Linked DNA regions of Homo sapiens: region 2 is linked to region 1. A link means that fine-mapping ties the variant in region 1 to the expression of a gene that starts in the linked region. Tissue or cell type: whole blood. Region 1 holds a variant in brackets; the other region holds the start of a gene. All regions are shown on one strand. Distances are between the middles of the regions.

The links. PIP is the estimated chance that this variant, and not a neighbour inherited with it, causes the effect.
Region 2: UBE2E2 starts here. The variant in region 1 is fine-mapped to the expression of UBE2E2 in whole blood (INTERVAL, PIP above 0.99).

The regions. Positions count from the first base shown.
Region 1 is chr3:23,432,017-23,442,592 of GRCh38, reverse strand. All of the region lies in intron 3 of UBE2E2 (ubiquitin conjugating enzyme E2 E2), which reads right to left. Among named protein-coding and RNA genes, the nearest start is that of UBE2E2, 230 kb to the right of the region's middle. RefSeq lists a cis regulatory region at 1,033 and an enhancer at 949-1,118. The variant T/AT (reference allele first, on the strand shown) is at 6,029.
Region 2 is chr3:23,199,382-23,209,957 of GRCh38, reverse strand. It overlaps UBE2E2 (ubiquitin conjugating enzyme E2 E2), which reads right to left and starts at 6,631. Exons shown (of 6, transcript NM_152653.4): 1 at 6,494-6,631; 2 at 1,083-1,266. The coding sequence starts at 1,258. It overlaps UBE2E2-DT (UBE2E2 divergent transcript), which reads left to right and starts at 6,965. Exons shown (of 2, transcript NR_136176.1): 1 at 6,965-7,094. RefSeq lists a silencer at 6,471-7,160 and enhancers at 7,511-7,570, 6,983-7,958.

The sequences.
Region 1 (10,576 bases):
CAGAAAGCTCAGTGCCTTATGTAAGGCATTTTAATTTAGTATACTTAAAACTATACTTCATAGTAAGACTTTCTTCCTTACACATAGGAGGGCATAAGAGTTCATAAAAATGCTTTATATGTCTTTACGAACACTTAGGATCAGAAGACAGATCTTAATACTTGGAATTAATCACAAGATTAAGGTATGAAATATCACCCTCTCTTACAAGAAGCCAGACAAGTCCTTTTTGGGGGGTTGGGTGGGAGATTAATGCTATATACCCATCAGTAGCAGGATTCATTTTTTTTTTTAAATTTAGAAATGTTTTGGTATTCTCCTTAAGTTCATTAAAACTTCTCTTTAGTGCATTTAGTTTGGTGTAAATAAAAGGATCAGTTCTGCCTGATCTTCACCCTGATTTCCTGTCTGTTTCAGTTAATATTCCTTATCCTATTGTTACTAATGTTTAATGAGGTCTTTATTAAAATATACATATGTTCTTTTACTCCCAGATTTTATTTTTGTAGCATGTATTACACAGGCCACATAAGTCCAAAGTTACAATCAACAATATAAAAGTCACAGAACTAAAATCTAAATTTCTAACTAACAATATGAACACTAGGGAACTTCAATTTAAATCACAAAGCAAGGCTTTGTAATAACATTCTTAAAGTACTTAAATAAATATGAAACGTCTTTGAATATAAGTGGTACACCAAAAGCAAATGTGTTTTAAACGACCCAAATGAAGAGTTTCATTTTCTGACACTGCTTTTGGTAATTAAAAAAAATGATATATTTAAAATAGTTAGCTCATAATATCACCTAAAGTGTTGTACAGTTAACAACTTCCTTTCAAAAATAATAGCATAAAGCAATACTGAATACGCTATAACTTAAAGATGAGACAGAATCAATGCTACCTGTCAGCAGTGCTAGAGGCCTGCCCCAACCACATGACTATTAGGAACAAGTCAGTGAGCTCCTCTAACAAAGTCTGTGCTTCAGAGATGGTGGCATCTCCTCCACACATTAAGTTTCCTTACCCAATTCTTTTTTTTTTTTTTTTGAGACGGAGTCTCGCTTTGTCGCCCAGGCTGGAGTGCAGTGGCGCGATCTCGGCTCACTGCAAGCTCTGCCTCCCGGGTTCACGCCATTCCCTGGCCTCAGCCTCCCGAGTAGCTGGGACTACAGGCGCCCGCCACCATGCCCAGCTAATTTTTTTTTTTTTTTTTTTTTGGATTTTTAGTAGAGACGTGGTTTCACTGTGTTAGCCAGGACGGTCTCGATCTCATGACGTCGTGATCTGCCCGCCTTGGCCTCCCAAAGTACTGGCTGGGATTACAGGCGTGAGCCACTGCGCCCGGCCTTCCTTCCCCAATTCTTTGATAGATGCTCACTTCACAGGTACAATTGTTGCCTGCCAACCTTGCAGGGTGGATATTAGTTTTCATCTGATGCTTCAGAATACCCAAGTGACACAACACCAGGTCAAATGATTTTAGTGGTTTGCAAGTCGGTGTAAAAACCCCAGCTCTTTTGTACTGGAGCTCAGTATCCAAACAGCCCATTCTCTCTTTAGAATTCTAACTAAAATGTCAGTGGCAAGGGATTTTTAAAATAGCCCCTAGGTGTTTCAAGTTTCCTGTGCTTGTTTCAGCAGACTACTGACCCTGCCTACTCACAATAAGCGAGTCTCTTAGGATTTAAATATACAGCTACATTGCCGTAACAAGAACCAGTTACAGGAAGAGCAGGAAAAAAAGTTGGGGGGACAAACTGGCAGGAAATGACTTCAGGACACTTTTTTTCTTTTTTTTTAAATCCAAGTCAAAGAATAACTCAGCTCTTTACAGTTATTTAAATCTGAAAACTATTTCCCTGAAAATGAAATTTCTAAGTAATATACAAATCAACTTAACTAGACTGAAACATTTAGGCTGATCTTACTTTATCCTTTTTCTCAGTATCTTACCTAACGGTTCTATATTTCAAAGCCTGACAGATTTGTTTGGCTGGCATGATCTGACCACTTCCTTTCTATCGAGAAATACAATTTTCTCTTTTGTTGCTGAAAGATTTCTGTTCACGCGTATGAACGTGGGTCCGTTTACAGATTTTGAAGTGTAAATGTTAACATGGAGATAATGCAGGTCAGTATTTTACATCTTATTAGATATCTATATAAAGAAGATAAGATAGCCGGGTACAATGGCCCATGCCTGTAATCTCAGCACTTTGGGAGGACGAGATGCAAGGATTGCTTGAGTCCAGGAGTTTGAGACCAGCCTGGGCAACATAGTGAGACCCCATTATTTTTCCTTTTTTTCTTTTGAGACAGAGTCTCACTCTGTCACTCAGGCTAGAGTGCAGTGGCGTGATCTTGGCTCACTGCAACCTCCGACCCCTGAGTTCAAGCGATTCTCCTGCGTCAGCCCTCCGAGTAGCTGGGATTACAGGCACCTGCCACTGCACCTGGCTAATTTTTGTATTTTTAGTAGAGATGGGGTTTCACCATCTTGGCCAGGCTGGTCTTGAACTCCTGACCTCGTTCGTGATCCACCCACCTCGGCCTCCCAAAGCACTGGGATTACAGGCGTGATACACAATGCCCAGCCTCTTTTTTTTTTTTAATATAAAAAATTTAAAAAGATAAGAATGTCTACAATGAATAAGTATAGCTTCTCTGGCTTCACTGATAGTATAATCTTGATGTCAGGTAGGTTTCTTGTTCCTCAAACTGTATAGGTTAAAACACAAAATGGGCTAATAATGGACAGCACTATGGTACTTTAGTTATACATCTGGATTGAGGAATGGAGTGAGAAATACAATGCGTTTTCGCTGAAAGTGTTTAAACTACTTAAATACATTAAAATAAAAATAAACACATTAAAATAAAAGGTTATCTATCTTTCCATTGTTATAAGATGTGGGTTCCAAAGCACTTGAGGGATGGGATGGAGACAGCTGCTCAAGGACAAGCTGGAGAAAGTTCATTATAAGAGTATGTATAATTCATTCCAGACCTCTCAACGTTCTCTCTCATAATCTCTTTGGGGTCCTAGAGACTTTGGGCAGCTAGCCATCCCCAGGGCTCACTTGCTTAAAATTCAAATCCCATTTCCCAGATCTCCCTTAATCCAAACACTTATCCATAAGAAGTTCTAAAACAATTCTAGGGTTAAGACATGGAGGAGGAGGGGTGCCTCTGAGTTTGACAGTATCTCTTAGCGCAGGTACTATAACACACACCCTTTATTCCTTTAGTCCTTGGATTCCTGGCATCTGCCAGTAACCCTATGTGATGGCCAGTCAGGAAGGAAAGCAGTCACACAGTTTCCTTTTGCAGTGCACAGGAAGAATACGCATGAAGGGAAAGTCTCAGGTTAGCCTTCCCCTGTACACATAACAGTATTTTTTAAAAATCACATGTTAAAAGCAAAACATCATGAATTCAATGTCAAGAAATTGAAACATTTCTTTGAATCAACTTATTTATAAGTATTATTGAGTTCCTGTTCCAAATTTTGCATTCTACTCTGATTTTCTTGTATATAAAAATGATCACTCAATTACTTAGGGGCAAATCTAACAATATTCATGCCTTCCTTAAAATAAAGACAACAATAGTTAACCATTATGTAGTGTGTTGAGTAGTATTCAAATATCCTTGCAAAGAAGCCACAAACCTTATCAGAATACTAATATGTTGTTATCAGAAAATTTGTAGTGATGGTGGTAACCTGACAATCATAAACCCACAGTAATTCTGATTCTTTTATGGTTTCAATATGAATACAGCTGAAACCAAATATTTTAATTTATGAACTATGTTAAGTTTCTCTTTTCCATTTATATGTGGGATGGACCACATGCAGCAATATCTAATTTAGTAAATATTTCAAGCATATATCAAACCATGATGCATAAAATATAATGAAAAGGAAAAATATTAATACTTTAATTATTACTCAAGAAAGAACACATGACTAAGCTGTCACCAACTGCCTATCATAATGCTATAAAACTTACTTAGGACCAACTAATAAAAGCTCAAAAACCGTACAACTACTGAAAATGTCTAGTATATAACTTGAGAACATCTGTCCCTTTTAATTCAAACCTTTTCAAATTTAAGTTCAAGGAACTTCTATCACTACAGAAAATACAGAAATGTATCATCTAATTTTGAGTACTATTTCTGCCAATCCTTTGCTCAAACCTTCCACAGGCTCCTATGGAATAAAGCTGATGTTCTGGTTCTGGTACCCTAAATCCTCCATAATTTGGACCCCCTCACTTCAGCCTTATTTCCTCTTGCTCCAGCATGAGGAAATCTTTTCTCTAGAGAACCTGAATTCCTGAACCTTCTCAACTCTGCACCTTTACTTTTGCTCTTTCTGAAGCTTGTCTGGAACACCTTTCTTGCTTTACTCACTGAAGTCCCACCTGAATCAAGTTAAAATGCTTTACAGAAACCTGTACTGGTTCATGTTTGTGATCCTACAATCTGAGCTTAGACACTGGCATGAAATGATGCTCTTCAAATCTGCTGAATTAATCTGACTCTAAAGCCAATTTAAGACCATACAATAGTCTGCCCCTCACTGTTCCAACTTGGTCATTTCCAGTAACTGATCTTTGTAGTCACTGTGCTCATACTGCATTTACTGCCCACACTGAGGGTGTTTAAAACTTGCTGATTTCATGGAATCTCTGTGTTTTTCTCATGTTAATCAAATAAGTGGCCACCTGTCCTGTGTGCGGCACACAATGCTGAGGATGCAGAGATGCAGGATGACCTTTTCTGTGAGAACATATACACAATCTACGATACAAGTATCACACAAAGAACCAAAAGGACGTAGAAATCCAAAGGAGGAGGGAGTGCCTGTCTGACGGAAACATGCCAGACACTATACAGAAGCAGTGAGGTTCGATTCTACTGTCACAAGGAAAGTGTTCATGGTGATTCAGGGCCTCCGGCATTCCTCTCCTTTCTGAGCTCCTATAGTACTTACGTTTTACACTACTTCTTTTACCCTTAATGATGAAGATGAAGGTCAGAAACTGATTGCATTTGCTGAGCAATCACTATATGCCAGAGATTCTTATAATTAGCACTTTACATGATATTAATGCATTTAACTGTCACAAAAACCTAATCTATTAAAATACTCCTGGATTTACAGATTAGCAAACTGTGGCACAGAGAAATTAAACATCTTGGAAAAATTACACAGGTATTAAGTGGGTGGCATGGGACCTACTATGCATGGAAAAGTCAAAAGGGCCAGTTTTAGGTGGCATGGTCAAGGAAGAACTATCCCTATAAATAGTAGTTGCAATGAGACCTGAAAAAAGAGAGTCAGACATGTAAGGATGAGTTTTTCAGGCCAAGTAAACTACAAGGAGAAAGGCCCTGGGATGAGAAAAACCTGGCGTGTGTGGGAAGTGGAAGGAAGGCCAACGTGGCCAGAGTCAAGTGAAAGGGAGAAAGAACAAGAGATGAGCCTCCAGAAGCAGGCAGGGGCCAGCTCACGTATGGCCTGTGGGCCTGGGTTAGGAGTCTGGGTTCTATGTGTACTGATTTACCTTTACACTACACAACTCTTATGTCTTGTTCTCCACAGTGAGAGTGTCAATGGCAGAAACCAGCTATTATTTTTTAAATGTCTTGTAGCACCCAGCTCATAGTATTATGCAAAATACTCTGTGAAACATTCCCTAACTGTGATAAAAATGAGGTGGGTGTAACTGCATGCAGGAGTGGCTGAAATGGTCTAATGTCGGAGATACAAATGGAGAGACAGAGAGGCATTCCAGACCTGTGGTATGCCAGTTTCATGGCTGCAGAGGGGGAACTTAAGACGTTCTAATAAAAATAAGATGGAACATGGAAAAATAAGATTTTGTTTTGGGGAGGGAGTATAGTTTTTGTTTTTGTTTTTTGGGACAGCATCTTGCCCTGTCACCAAGGTTGGAGTGTAGCGGCTCAATCGCAGCTCACTGCAGCTTTGAGAATAGGAAAAAAAAAAAA[T/AT]CTTCTGTAAATCAAGATATAATTAGAACTTATACTCAGATTTTCCTTTAAAGGAAAACAAATCTTCAAATGTCTTCTAAATGAGAGCGCTCCAGTTTTCTATGAGAATACAACAGATGCTACAGTGTACGAATTCTGAAGAACGCAGGACTAAGAAATGCCCAGTGAAAGCAAAGTACTCAATTACTAACGAAATGTTAACATGTCATTCTGGCAAGAAGAAAAATATCATGGAACAGCAGAATGAACCTGGGCACTGGAGTCATGAAAGTTCACAATCAGAACTCTAGTTTAGCCACTGTGGTATAACACCTAAAATTAAGGTTCAATATCATGTGCCGCTTTGACACCTGGTAAAATCGGGAAGGCCTTGAATGATCTAACCCAGGGATCCCCAAACCCTGGGCCACAGACTGCTAACAGTCTGTAGCCTGTTAGGAACTGGGCCGCACAGCAGGAGGTGAGCGGCTGGGGAGCAAGCATTGTTGCCTGAGTTCCACCTCTGTCAGATCAGCAGTGGCATTAGATCCTCATAGCAGTGGGGATCCTATTGTGAACTGTGCGTGCGAGGTATCTAGACTGTGCGCTCCTTATGAGAATCTAACTAACGCTTGATGATCTGAGGCAGAAGAGTTTCATCCCCAAACCAGCCTGCCCCGCCCCTGCCGTGGAATAACTGTCTTCCACAAAACCAGACCTTGGTGCCAAAAAGGTTGGGGACCACCGACGTAACCCATACGTTCCCCTCTCCACTCTGCTCTCATGAATAAAGGCCCCTAGCGAAACCATCCACCTTACCAAAGGGGCCAGATGCAGTTCTTCCTTATCCTTGAATAGTAGGTTTCAGTTTCTTGTCAGCTTGAGGAATTATTCAAACAAGCCAATCACATCCTTCCATGGGAACCAGGGGATACCCCCACCCTCTTGATACTACAAAGCCTGCCTCCCATAGCTCCTAGTTGTTTACTCTGTTCCCAAGTGCAACTCCACGTGACCCCACTTGAGGCACAGGGTCCTCTTTGCCTTAGCTGTGAACATAGGTAACTAACTGCTGCTGAGCCCAACTGACGTGTTCAGCCATCCTCATAACCCTATGGCAGGAATCCTTCCCTTGTCAAAGGGGTGAGGAGGAAGTGACCAAAACCACCACTTACTGGCTGTGTGAATCAGACCTCACACCAAGTAACTTAACTTTTATCTCCAAGCTTTTTATTCTGTAAACTAGGATTAAGAATATTTACTCTGCAGGTTACGGTTAAGTATTATCTCTAGCAGTTATTATTGTGTGTTGTATCTAGCAGTGCAGTTTTAGACTCATGACTGATTCTACTAATAAAATCCTTATCCCATCACCTGTCCCTATCACCATAACTATTACTATTGATTTCAAGTGTGTAAGTTCAAATTATAGAGTTTGAAACAATAGGTGGGGACATAAATAACAGGCCAGATTTTATTTAAGAAGCAATCTGGCTTATTTACTAGACATCACTTAATTTCAGCCACTAAGAAAACAACTATAAGGAGAATTAACAAGAGTTTTGGGAAAATAAGTAGACATGAAACCAAGACTGCTTTCCAGATACTAAATACTTGGTTGAACTGTAATTTGATTCTGTGAATCTGGATATGCAAATGATGCAGCGATTTATGGCAATAAAGGTCTTTTTAATGAGCTAACATTCTGTGCGCAAATGCTTTATTTTTAAGCAAATGGAAAAAAATCACTTGCTTCAGATAAGAGACAAGGGGAAAATTGGAGCTAATAAAGCATTACACTGAGAGAATTTCCTTTTCTTCAGTTTTTCCTTCTCACATCTTAATTGTGCTACTTATTAAACACACCCCCAATCCAACTGTTTCCTGAACTCAGTAGTACATCTTTATGCCTTTCAATTTTTATGCAATTACCTAATTTATACAAGTTTGCATATTTGTACATTTACAGAGAGGAAAATTATAAAATATATAGTCTAATATACACATAATAAAATGAAAATTTATAACTATTTAAATAATGGAGGGAAGAAGACTTACACAATATAGTGAGAACTCCTTTGGACACACATAGGGTGATCATTTTGGGAGTATCTGTTTCGTACCAAGAATTTTTTGCCTTTAAATTTTGTCTAGTTAAGTAGAGCTAATGCACAATTGTGTCATTTGGGGGATGCAAACTTTATTCTCTTCAGAATTCTAGTTTGATACTGAAATATTACTGTCATAAAATTAGAGATAAATCACAATCCAGGTTATGTTAGTAAGCAATTGGATGTTACATTGAGATCTTTTTTTTGCTCTTTGGCTACCACATTCAATAAGTATTTAAGCACTAGTTTAAAGTGGATGATTGTTAATGTACAACAAAATTGCACAGTAATAAAGCCTGTAATAAAAATAAGCGGAACACCCACAGCTCATACAGTGTAGTTAAGTGTATTAGCTGGTCTCAAAAGCATTAACTTTTACTCAAATAGCAGCAGTATTCTGCACAACCTATTAGCTTCAGACAGTGCATATTAGCTGCAGACTACCAGAAATTTTTATATTTGTATGTTCAAATAAAATGGGTTTCACTATATTATAAATAGTTCCATATAATATTGAGGATTTATTTTAAATGTAAATGAGAAAAAAGGGGAATCTTTTTTCCCTTACAAACGAGGTAACTTAAAAATTTACCATTCTTAGTCTACATGTATTCCCGTATTTTACATCTTGTGAAAAAGCAAGACATGATATACTTCTATTAGTTAGCTTTTCTTGGAAGTTGTAAATTTATAAAAAGAGATCACTGATGGGCCAGCCCTTCATTTACTCTCATTCTGTTAAATTTGTCTTTCTCTTAGGCCATAGCTTGGGAATGTTAAATCCAAAATTTGGCTCAGTGTTTTTAAAACTTAAAAAAAAAAAGTCATAAAGACAAGCTGTTTTCTTGATCCTTTAATGCATTTTCAACGTTTAAATATCACATATTCTGGTTAATCATAGCCAATAAGATATCATCAGATCATATAAATCTGCGTCAATGTACTTAGTTTCAAAAAATTAAAAACAACCAATTCATAGTGCCAACCATGCTCAAAAATCATTAACATTCACTGTTGACATCAGTCCAAAGCATTCACCTGCATTAAAACACTTCATTAAAACACTCAAGAACTCTATCACTATTTATCTAGAAGCACGCATAAAACAAAATTCAGTTTTACATACAATAGGATTTAATCAGCTGTTTTTCAGCTTTTTTTTAATGGAGTCAACTTATAATTTTTTATTATTATGAAGTTATTCTAATTCTTTATAGAGGAGCACAATAATGATATAGCAAAATTCACTTGGGAGAAAAGATATGAGTATAAGATTTTGGTCCACCACAGTATCCTAGGTGCCTGAAACAGTGCCTGGCATACAGAAACTGACATTCAATAATTATTTTCTGTATGAATAAACAACTGGGTACACTTTTCCACCAAAAAGTAATATTTATTTTTTCCTTCCATTCACATCTTATCACAGGAATAAAGTATTAAAGGCATCATAAGTTAAAAGTTCTGTTAATGGCATCATAAGCTGAAAGTTTAGTGTTTAATATATTCAAGTTGCATCATAATCAAGAATCTTTCTATCATGATATCGAAGTGTCTATTCTTATAGAACCACACATAAATTATATTAATATTAACATCTATTATATCTGTTAATATGTTAATAGTTTATTATTAAATTATTAATGTCATTATCAAAGGCAAGAAAAAAGTAACAGAAAAGAAGTCTCTGTGTGACTGTTATCTGGAAATGAATCTATAATGTAAATACATCTCTATATGGCTGGGAAAGTTCTTTCAAAAGTTCAATTAAATAAATTTTAATTGAACATGAAATGCCCAAAATTGAGAAAACCACTACCAAATTTGGACAGAGTAATAGTAAGCATCCTTCTCAACTAATGAACTTGAGACGAGAAAGTAAGGAGAAAAAGAACATGGTAGAGCTGTGGAGAGACTGACAGCAGGAATTTATCAGTAAGAAGGTATAACTGATAATGTTGATATATGCACTTACATAAAAAGCCTTCTGAATATTAAAAATATTAAAAATCATATCACTGATGTAAAAAATTTGTTTAAAGTCCTATAGTAATCATTTCTAGAAATTTGCTTTTAAATGCTGATGCTATTTGTTATGATTTTTGGTTATTCCTTTTGTTTCACTTTTTGCCAATTATGAACGAAGAATCCTCATACAAATAATAATTGCACTTATGATACCTTTCAGCTCACAATCTTAATGCATTAACCAATTAATTAAGAAGGAAATATTTATCCCAAATTAGGGTAATCAGAATTAGGAATGGCAAGAACTCTGTTGCTTCTTTTCTCTACACATACCATTTTAGAATTTGACTGCTTGTGATATAATTACTGTATCTGACAAAACATAGAAAGAGAAATTAATGAAAAACTGATTTCTGGATATAGCTGCAGAACATTTATCCAAATTTTCTGTACTGAAAGCTGTACATTACAGTGTGATGACTAGTAGCGT
Region 2 (10,576 bases), 230 kb after region 1:
AGGTCTCAAAGTTTAAAGTTCAGGGCTCTCTGACTTTCAAACAGCTCCTTCAACAGAGATCAGCAATACACCCCCACGAAAGGGAAACTGAATACTCTAGTACCTTGGAATAACCACTCACCATCCCTCCAACATCTCTCACCAAGGGTCCTGAGAAGGTTCTTTCCAACCCTGTAGACTGACTAAGCCAAAGGAAAACAAGGTCTACTAGAACAAAATAATGGTTTTTTATCTTTGAGAAAGGAGTTCCCCTTAACCCACACCATAAAATAACATATAAAGCTGTAATACAACATTCAGGCATTCCACTATGCCTACAAGTTACAGATCGCTTTTATGTATACTTCCGACTTGGTCAATGTAAAATATATGAAAACAAAGCAAGAACATAAAATCACAGGATCAGGAAAGACACTACATTTAATTTATCTTTCAAATTATTTTCCAAGAGATATTCTATAATGTAACAATATCAAACAGATTCCCTTTAAGTCCAGTGACATGCCAATCATTTTAAGAGATTGAGTACCAACAGAAAATCATTCAAATACCTACTTTCCAGATCCATCTATTCTCTAGAGAAAGAGAAAATCCGTATCAAGATGGATCCACTGACTAATGTAATGAAACCAAGATGCACCTGTTGCTAATGTCAGCATTTCTGACTTTACCAACTGGGAGTAGTGGAAAATAAACTGTCACTCACTCAGTAACTACTTCAAAGATTCCTAATCTCTATTCTGTGTTACTGAACAGAAAAAAAATATTTATGGTCAAGTAACCATAAATGAAACTACTGCAATTTTACATACACACCCTGTATATGTTTCCCTGATAATACATAAACACACAAACACACTATGGAAATGTATGTTATGAATTTGCCTTGCCATTTAACTGACTTTAAATACTGAAGTTCCCTATGGTTAAAACCATGTAAACGAGATCATCTTGAAGGGAAAAGAAAAATCCATGAAGTTCACGGCCGACATCCCAGAAAAAATGATTAAATGCAAGAGAAAAATAGAACTTAAGATGATAAATTGATACCAACAATAAAAAGGTTATAATAACTGAAGTACCTTTTAGCACTAGTTGACAATTTAGCAGCGGTTTTGCTGGATATTTTTCCCTCCTTTTTCTTGGGCTGAACTTGTTCTCTTTCTGGTTCTTGCTGAACACTTTCACGTTGATCTCCATCGGAACTTCCTCCACTAGTGCTTGGACTGTCATCAACTCTTTGTGCCTCAGTGGACATTTTAGATCCTGGATTAAAGAATCAAAAATCATTTATTTAGCTGTACTACAGTAAGCTACCTCCAGAACACAGAGAATGAGCCTCAAAGTAAAACAAGTAAATCTCAATATAAAATGGATTAAATTGGTCATTTACAAAACAATGCAGCTTTGGGAGTTGCTAAAACTTTTCCTTCATCCATTCAAAATGTATTCTAAAATGAAAACATACAAAATTTATACATGAAATGTTCATAGCAACATTATTCATAATAATCAAAACTGGAAACAACTCAAATATCCACTAACAAATGAATGGATGAACAAAATATAGTAGTATATTCACATAATGTACTGTTAGCCATAAAAAAGAATGAAGTACTGTGTCTACATGCTACAAAATGGATGAACCTTGAAACATTCTGGTAAGTGAAAGAAGCCAGCCACAAAGGACCACAAACTGTTTGACTATTTATATGAAATGTCCTGAACAGGCAAATCCATAAACATAAAATTCAGTAGTGAACCTCACGCCTGTAATCCCCAATGTTTTGGGAAGCTCAGGGAGCACCAGCCTGGGCAACGTAGTGGGACTCGATCTCTACAAAAAATAAAAATATGATTGATACCACTGCATTCCAGCCTGAGTGACAGAGCAAGACCCTGTCTCAAAAAAAAAATTAATAAAAAAATAAAATGGGTAAGTGGTTGCCAGGGAGTGAGGGGAGAGTAGTGAAGAGTGACGGCTAATGGGTATGATGCTTCCCTGTGCGGTGATAAAAATGTTCTTAAATTAGATAATTATAATCTTGCACAATTCTAATAATAAATATTCTAAGAACTACAGAGTTGTACATTTTTAAAGGGTAAATTTTATAGTATGTGAATTATATATCAATAATGCTGTTACAGAAAATAAGACAAAAATGATTAAGGGTCTACTCTCTACCAGGCGCTGTGCTAAGCCCTTTGGTCCCACAACTGTGAAAAACCTCGACTAGCCAACTTGCTAAGTACAAAAACGAAGGTTAGTACAAATACTTGTGGGAACACAAAAATGGGACGACACTTTCAAATCCCTATTCAATCAATACATCCTCAGGGCTGGGCTAAGGTTAAAATTCTCCAAACTAGTAAGTGGTTTTAAGTAACCTTTGTGATAACAGAAGAACACAGAGGCCTGCATGACTGCATGATTCTAAATAAAAATTGAACCATATGACAGCATTCAGCTATATACTAAAGCAACCATATTTCACAAGAGATGAAGACACTGAAGATTTTTTTTTTTTTCCCCACATTCTGGCTAAAATATCCCTCAAGGCTTTCAAATTCCCTTTGCTCTGAGTTCAGGCCCCCCAAGCAGTTCTGATTACCAACTCAATTTCCTCAATACCTTGATATTTAGGTAGCTGTTATAATCTAGACAGCAGACACAAACAATTCCAGTAAGTGAAAAGGAGTATCTCTCCTCAACTGTCATTCTATCATAATCAATTTCTGAGTTTGATGACTATGAATACATCCCTTATGAGCTGACTAGCTTAAAGTGTTCTGACAAATCCAGAACTGAACCAACAAAACTCATGCCCAGACTCTAAAAGGCCTTGTGCTCCCCATGGTTTTGTCACCTAATAATCACTTTCAGCACTGTATAGCTATCTTCTCAGACACCTTTTTAAAAACAAAATACCTATACTTAATAAGTACCATTAACAGCAAAAAATATATCTTTAAAAATTATAGGTACACTGAACAAATTCCTTTTGAAATGGATCCTTTTGATTACTCTTAATCAAATTACAACTTGAAATAAAACTGTTTCTGATATGATCAAGAATAAGAACAGGTAAAGATACCTCAAATAAAGCAAAATTTTTTAATTACTATAACTTAGTCCAAATGGATAGCTATTTGACACTGATGAAAATTCATCATCACTAAAGATTTAACTTGTAGCTTGCTCTAAGCCAAAGCAATGTTGTAACACCGATCTTTAATGGACTGAAATTTTTGTAAGACAAACCAAAAAGCACTGCAAAAGAATGGAAGCATCAGGAAGCACAGAGCCACAAAGAGTCAACAGAAAATAGTGAATCCTTTCACTGACACACCACACACACCACCACCAGCACCCCTTCAACCCCAACAGCTCCCCATGCCAAACAGAAACAGATCTGCCCCAACAGCTCTGAAACATACTAACGGAAAAGCTGACTACTTTTCTACCTATTCTGTAAATGAAGAGCACCAGTCTCCACAGCTGTGACATCTTTTATGAGCACTAAAGTCACTTAATAGAACACTGAAATTTTATATCAGTATGTTTCACATCTAGCTCTAAAAGTCGTAACATATTTCTTGCTTTTTTTCATTTTTATTTCACTCTAAATTCTCATTCTTGGATTTAATATTTTTTTTCACCTTCTTTCAGTTAAAATATATCAGAAGTTTAAAATCTTGTAAGTATGTACATAATGGCATATCAGATAGGGCGGCATGCATGAGAGTGAAAAAGAGAACAATCCTCAGGGAAAGGTGCTCAGATATAGCAAAATGCTGCCAGCAATACCTTAAGAAATGTGAAATGAGTGAGAAATCATTTTATACATTTTAAAACAGGAGCAATCCATTCCATGACAAATATATGGGTACCTCAATGAAATAATATTCTCTATACTGAGGATGCAGCTTCAGCGTAATAAACTATGATTTAATAAACTATGCTGAGAGTTTCAGTTGTGTATAACATTAGTTATAAAGCCACACATTCTTCTCAATATTCTTATTTATGTGCATTTACATACTATCGAATGCCATAGTTATATAATTACTTAAAAAGATTACTCAATGATGTGATCTGAGCCATAATCTGAAACTCAAATTTCTACTGCCGAATATTAGAGGAAGATTAAAATAAAAATTAGTCTCACCAGAGAACTAATAAAAATACTATTAGAAATTCCCCAACAGAGGTGTAATTTCTGGTTTCACATTAAGGAAAAGAATTATTCCCACTTTTGAGTTAAGACATATTTCATCCAAATGTTAACCTACAAATGATAAGTCCATCTGAGGCCATTGATAACCACTATAGGAACTTTTAGAAATAAAGTTTTCACATCTCTTTTTCAAATATCAATAATAAAAGGAATTTCTCCTGGGTTTGTTTTTTGAATGCTTGATTACAGAAAAAGTATAGAAAAAAATTATTGTACCACTCAGGTGCAACGAATTTTTATGAAGAAAAAGTAGTCTATGAATCAATTTAATTAGTCGTAAGTGTAAACTTGATGTCTTGTCTCTCTGAAGTACAAATGAATAAAAATTCCTGAATTAAAATCCTTTAAACATTATCTTCTAAATTAGCATTTTAAAATTAATTCCTAAATAGCTAATCTGATCCGATTATCTCATCTACAGGGAAGATAAACTTAAATCCCAGGGTTATAAACAAACAGCTACTCTCCAATGATACTTTCAAAGATATTGAGAGAGATAAATACGCTTACTTCATAACTCAAAGTAAAATTTAATTTTTAACCATAAAATAAGTAGTCCTTCCTAAAACTATATTAAGAGGCTTACATATTGTTACTTCTTCAACACAAACTGTCTAAGCTTGTATTAGCTATGTACCCTATGTTGTAATTACAGTCCTGGAAATTAGCAACATACAGTGAATGAAACTCACATGTTCCATAAAAATGAAATGATTTGGCTTGAAATATTACTGACTACATAAAGGCAACTATAGTCATTCCATAAATCCAGCCTACTACCCAGGTAAGCCTTATAACAGTATCTACTAGTATAAAACTGCAAAACCAAGTGTTCATTTAAGCTTTTATAACAGGAAAGCGTTTAATTCTGTCATATATGTCTTGCTGTCTTCCTACTCATGTTTCTAAACTTTTCTAAAATGTAAAATAAATATATAGTATATGCACACAGCAATATCCAGCTTTAAATTTAACTGCAAAGACATTTATGCAGAAAATAACAGTGGAACACCTGATTTGGGGGTAAAAGGTGCTGCAGGGGAAAGAGAATGGGGTATGGCATTATATGAAAACACTCTATTTCAGCGTCAGCCCACATACAGAATTCCAAAGAGCCAAGGAGCATCCAAATTGCCGTAGTAAAGGCAAATATTTAGATTCACAAAGTCCAGACTGAATTATCACATATCTAGAAACATACTTTTTAAAGAAATCAGGGATTAAAAACTAAGAAGAGCGTAAAATCCTTTAGAACCGCGAGATACTTTGAGGGTAAACCCTAGCACTTCCTTTCGTACTTTTAAATAAAAATATTTTAGTAGACTCTCAAGAATACACAATACAAAACGATGAATCTTGAAAACATGCAAATGGGTCTAACAGCCACCGAGCACAGGATGATGTCTTTCTAAAGCAGCCTTAATTTCCTTAAGGGAAGATGGATTGGACATTTCTGGTTGGTCGTGGGGGAAAAAAGCCACAAGAAGCCACGCTTTATCTTCATTAGAAATGGTAAAGGGCAAAAAGATCAAAACATTATGAGAGAGATCGGAGAAAAGAGGGGGAGAAGTGGGGTGGGCGGGAAGGGGGAGAGGACAGAGGGAATCCAGTTTCAAACCAGGCCAGTGGGGGCTGCAGAGAAGAGACCAGAGAAAAATGGGCTTCGGTTCCAAACTGTGACAAGCGCCAGGCATCACAAAAGACCAATACAACACACACCCCTCACCAGGACACACACAAATATACCCCACAAGGTCTTCTCCGGGCGGGCCACCGGGGTGCGGCGGCGAAGGAGCCAAACCCGGCACTCGCCAGGAGACACACCATGTGCAGCAATTATGCAATTAGGGAAAATAGCAAAAGATCAAGCCGGGCACTTTCCACCGTGACATTTATCCTGTACTTTTGAAAAGACTTAGTTCCAGGATGCGGCTAGGAGAAGGAAAGCGCTGGGAGGGTTGAGAAGGATGGGGAACTGAGAACGGAAGGGGGTAGAAGGAGGACAGGGAGAGAAGAGGCAGAAGGGGGGGATGGGAAGAAGGGGGAGGGGTAGAAAGGGCGAGAAACGGGGGCAGGAGGCTCGCGGGAGGGGGCGTAGGGAACCGGGCACGGGGAGCGAGGAAGGAGGGAACTAGGGCACGAGCGGTGTAAGCAGAGACCTGCGACGCGGAGGGGAGGTCGGGGGAGTGAGGAGGACGTCAGCGAGAGGGAGGACGCCCGAGGAGGGGAGGCACCGGCGCGGCCCGAGCGAATACCTGAGGGGGGGGTGTCCGTGCAGGTCGCAGGCTCGAGCCGAAGCCCTGGGAGAGAGCTGCCCAGGCGCGAGGGGGAGGGAGACTGGGGAGGCCCCAGGGACGGGATGTCCCCTGCGGACCGTCTAGTCACCGAAAGCCGGACCCACGCACCACGCACCCGACCACGCCTGTCCCCGCCGCGCTCGCGCCCGCCCGGACTCACCCTCAGCGCCGCCGCTGCCGCCGCCCCCGGCCGTTCCAGCTCCGGCTCCTGAGGCTGCTGCCCGCGGCTGTCGCTGTGGCTGCCCCTGAGTCCTGGAAAGTGAAGCCACCACCTCCGGGAGCCGCCGCCGCCCGGCCGTCCGCGCGCGCACCCGCGAGTGCGCGTGCCTGCGCGCCCGCCCGGGAGAGACCGCGAGAGCGCGAGCCCCACGTCGGCCATGCGGCGCCGCGCGCCTCCCTCCTCCCCCCGCCCCTCCTCCTCCGGCGCGCGGCCGCGAGGGGGCGGGGGCGGGAGCGCGCCCGGGCGGGCTGCCCCGCCGGTCGGGAGAGGGGGTGGGGAGGCGGCGAGGAAAAGTAAAGTGACAGCTGGGTCCCGCGCGCAGACTGGGCTCTGACGGGGGTGAGCGAGGGGCGTCCCACGGGGAAGGAACGACAAGGACGGGGAGAAGTGGGGGAAACCGAGGCTGACGGGGTGGCTTGAGGGGAGGGGACGCGAGGACCTTGCCGGGCACGCGCATTAAAGGGAAACGCCGGCTGGGGGTTAGGGGTTACCCCAAGACGGTGCAGGCAGTGGGACGAGGAGGCCTTTTACCCCCATCCACCGCAGCCCTTGACTTCACGCTCGCCTCGAAGCTTTCGCAAAGTAGATACGGGGACTGACCCTGTTGACACACTAACCCAAACTCGCAGACGCGTGGGGCTCGCATGTACCCAAGACAGGAAAACTTCACGTTGGCCTGGAAACTTCTTCCAGGCTAAGCCTGAGTCTTCACCAGACACTGCAGCACGAAGGCCCTTCTGCCTTTTGGCTCGCCCTGGCCCAGAATGCGCACCAGCCGGTAGAGAGGAGCTTCGGGCCGTTTAGCCCTGGGGTATTGAAGAGAGGGGTGGGGGTACAGGGTGCACCACTGTCAGAGTGAGTGGGAAGCTGCCTTCATGCCCAGTTGAAGGATATGGGAACAGTAGCAGTGCTGTAGGTGGCATGAGGGAACATTAGGTTCCGTTGTACTCCTCATCCCAAATAACCGTTTAAAAAAAAAAAAAAAACGTACCTGCTTTGCGAACTTAGCTTCCACGAAATTTCTCCCACTCCAACCTCCAGCCTCACTTACCAACGGAATGCTGGGTCGTTGGCAACGGGGTGTCCAGGGATGCAGCAAAATTAACTTCTATCTTTGTGGAGGAAAGGATTGGAAGATCTTTCACTGCTTAATTGCTGAAATTATGGTTGCTACAGTACTTCATTTGACTGTAGATGTTTTAACTGCTATTTACTAAGTTCAAAATGGGTTTAATACAAATCAGTTACCCTTTTCATTTATTCAAGGAATATTTATTGATACCAGGCACTGTCTAGGTGGTAGATATATGACATTGAATAAAAGAAAAAAATCCTTGTCCTCAGAACTTCCCTATGTCTGAACCTTCTCTGTTGTACACTCAGCATCACATTCGTCAGCAAATTCTGTTGACTCTGTTTTCACAAATATATGGTGAAAATGTCCACTCCGTCTCACTCCCCTCCCCACTGCTAATGTCCTGGTCTAAGGCATCATCTCTCAATAATTATCTCCTACCTGATCTTTCTACCTCCCACTCTCCGCCTCCTCCCTCCCCAACACCTACACACAGCCGACTGTCCTTTAAAACAAAGATTAGATTATGTCTCTCTTCTTCTCAAAAATTCCAGTGGCTTCCCATCATAGAGCAACAGCCAAAGTGCAAAATATGGATACATGGCCTGCATGATGTGCCCACCATTCCCAGCCAGGATTCCCCTGACCTCAAGCTGTACGATTTCACTCCATCCTCGTCTCCTTCCAGCCACACCGGCCTTGCAGTTATGGACACACCAAGCATTCCTCAGCCTCAAGACCTGTGTACTTACTATTTCCTATCTCTAGAACATTCTTTCCTCCCACTCCTCCCCCAGAACTTCCTATCCACATCCTCTGCTTTTTCTCCATGATCACCACCTGACATAATACATTTTTTTACTTATTTATTAGTTTCCCCCTTCTGCTTTCTTTTTCCTCCCTCTCCCAGCCCTCCCACGTAAAAGCACCTTGAGAAAAAGGATTTCGTCGTCTGGGGTTCAGTGCTGTATATATTCAATAGATAATGACCGAGTGAAAGAAATTGGTCTCTTTCAGTTGATGACACAATAGGTATTGTTTCTAATTTCTTCAATAATTAGTACTTACCGTGTTCTTAATTTGTGCTAGGCAGCATGCTAAGCACTTTAGTTATACTAGGTCACAACCACCACACAGGTTGGTTTTATCCAATCAGCCCCACTGTACAGATGAGAATACTGAGGTACGGAGGGATTAAGTCACTCACCTACAGTCACATAGCTAGTGAGGAGCAGAGCTGGGACTCGAAATCAGCAGTTTGGCTCTGGAGTCTGTGAACTTAAGGACACTTTACCATGAGTCTGGTGTTACAGACATAAATATTTATTTGATTTTCTCTATTTCTCTCTTCTGCGGTGCAAACTTGGTCTCCAAGACAAATAGCTCATCTTCCTTATATTTTCTGCTCTGGTCCATCAGTCTGTCGTCATGAACTCACTCCTTTCTTACATTTCTTATTTCTGATCATTAATTTAGAGCCTACGTTTTTTCCCCCTGCAACTGGCAAATTGGAATGTTTTTTGAAGGGTCCTTCTTAAAACGTTGTTACTGCCAACTTCGTGAGTAAGTAGAGCCACAGTTAGTTTTCCAGTTTGACTGGATGGGTGATAGAAAAGACCTCTCTCAGGGGAACTGGGCTGAATTTGAGCAGAAGCATTATACTGGTAGAGCCCTGCTACTTATTTAGGCAACTTCTGTTCTTGTTAGGCACCCAATTATCAGGGGTTATTACATATTTATATTATACCCTTTGAAAGAAACATCATATTAGCTCAGGTTTTCCAAAGAATGGGATAGAAAACAATGATCTGTTGCATACTGTCTGGCTTGAAGGAGGCTGTAGTCACCCCGAATGTTTTGGATACTTAAGGGCAACAGTGGTGTAGGAAAATTGAAACTCCAATAGAACTGCAACCCCATTACCTACCTAGTTCAGTACCAACGCAAAGGTACGACCAGGTGCTTTAAAAAAATGTTTGTTTCATAAATAAATAAATGAAATTCTAGCAGGGAATAGAAGTGTACTGAGGACAAATTCCCCTGACTTCCCCATTTGTTCAGGAACTGCTACCTGGACCACTATGTATGATCGTGTATTTTGTACACTGCAAAGTATCAGGGGGTGCCATTCATGTAAATTAAGATGCAAACATAGAAGTGTGGCTGCTCCTCTCACCCCTAGACGTTGCCTGAGTATGGTAATCAGTCTCTAAGATGTCCCACTGATCCCTGCCTCTTGGTATTCACACCCTTGTGTAATCCCCTCCTACGTCATGCTAGGGTTGGTGTAATGCTGTGAGAAAGGAGGGTATGTCACTTCCAAGATTAGTTTAGGGCTTCCATCTTGGTTGCGCACACACTGATGCTCTCTCTCTCTCTTTGCTGTCACTGACTCTGGGGAAAGCTAGCTGCCATATTGTGAGCAGCCCTGTGGAGAGGCCCATGTGACTAAAAAATAAGACCCGCTAACATCCACATGTGTAAGCTTTAAAGCAGATCCTTCAGCCTTAGCTAAGCCTTCAGATAATGAAGCCCTGATCAACATCTTAACTGCAAACTCTTGAAAGTCCTTGAGCCAGAAACACCCAGCTAAGCCACTCTGGAATCTGGAGATAATGTTTGTTATTTTCAGCCACTAAGTTTTAAGGGTAATTTGTTATGCATCAATAGATGATTACTACACCATGCTCTCTGCTCACTAATGATGAAGTTCCCCCTCAAGTTCTCCATGTATCAAGGAGGTTGC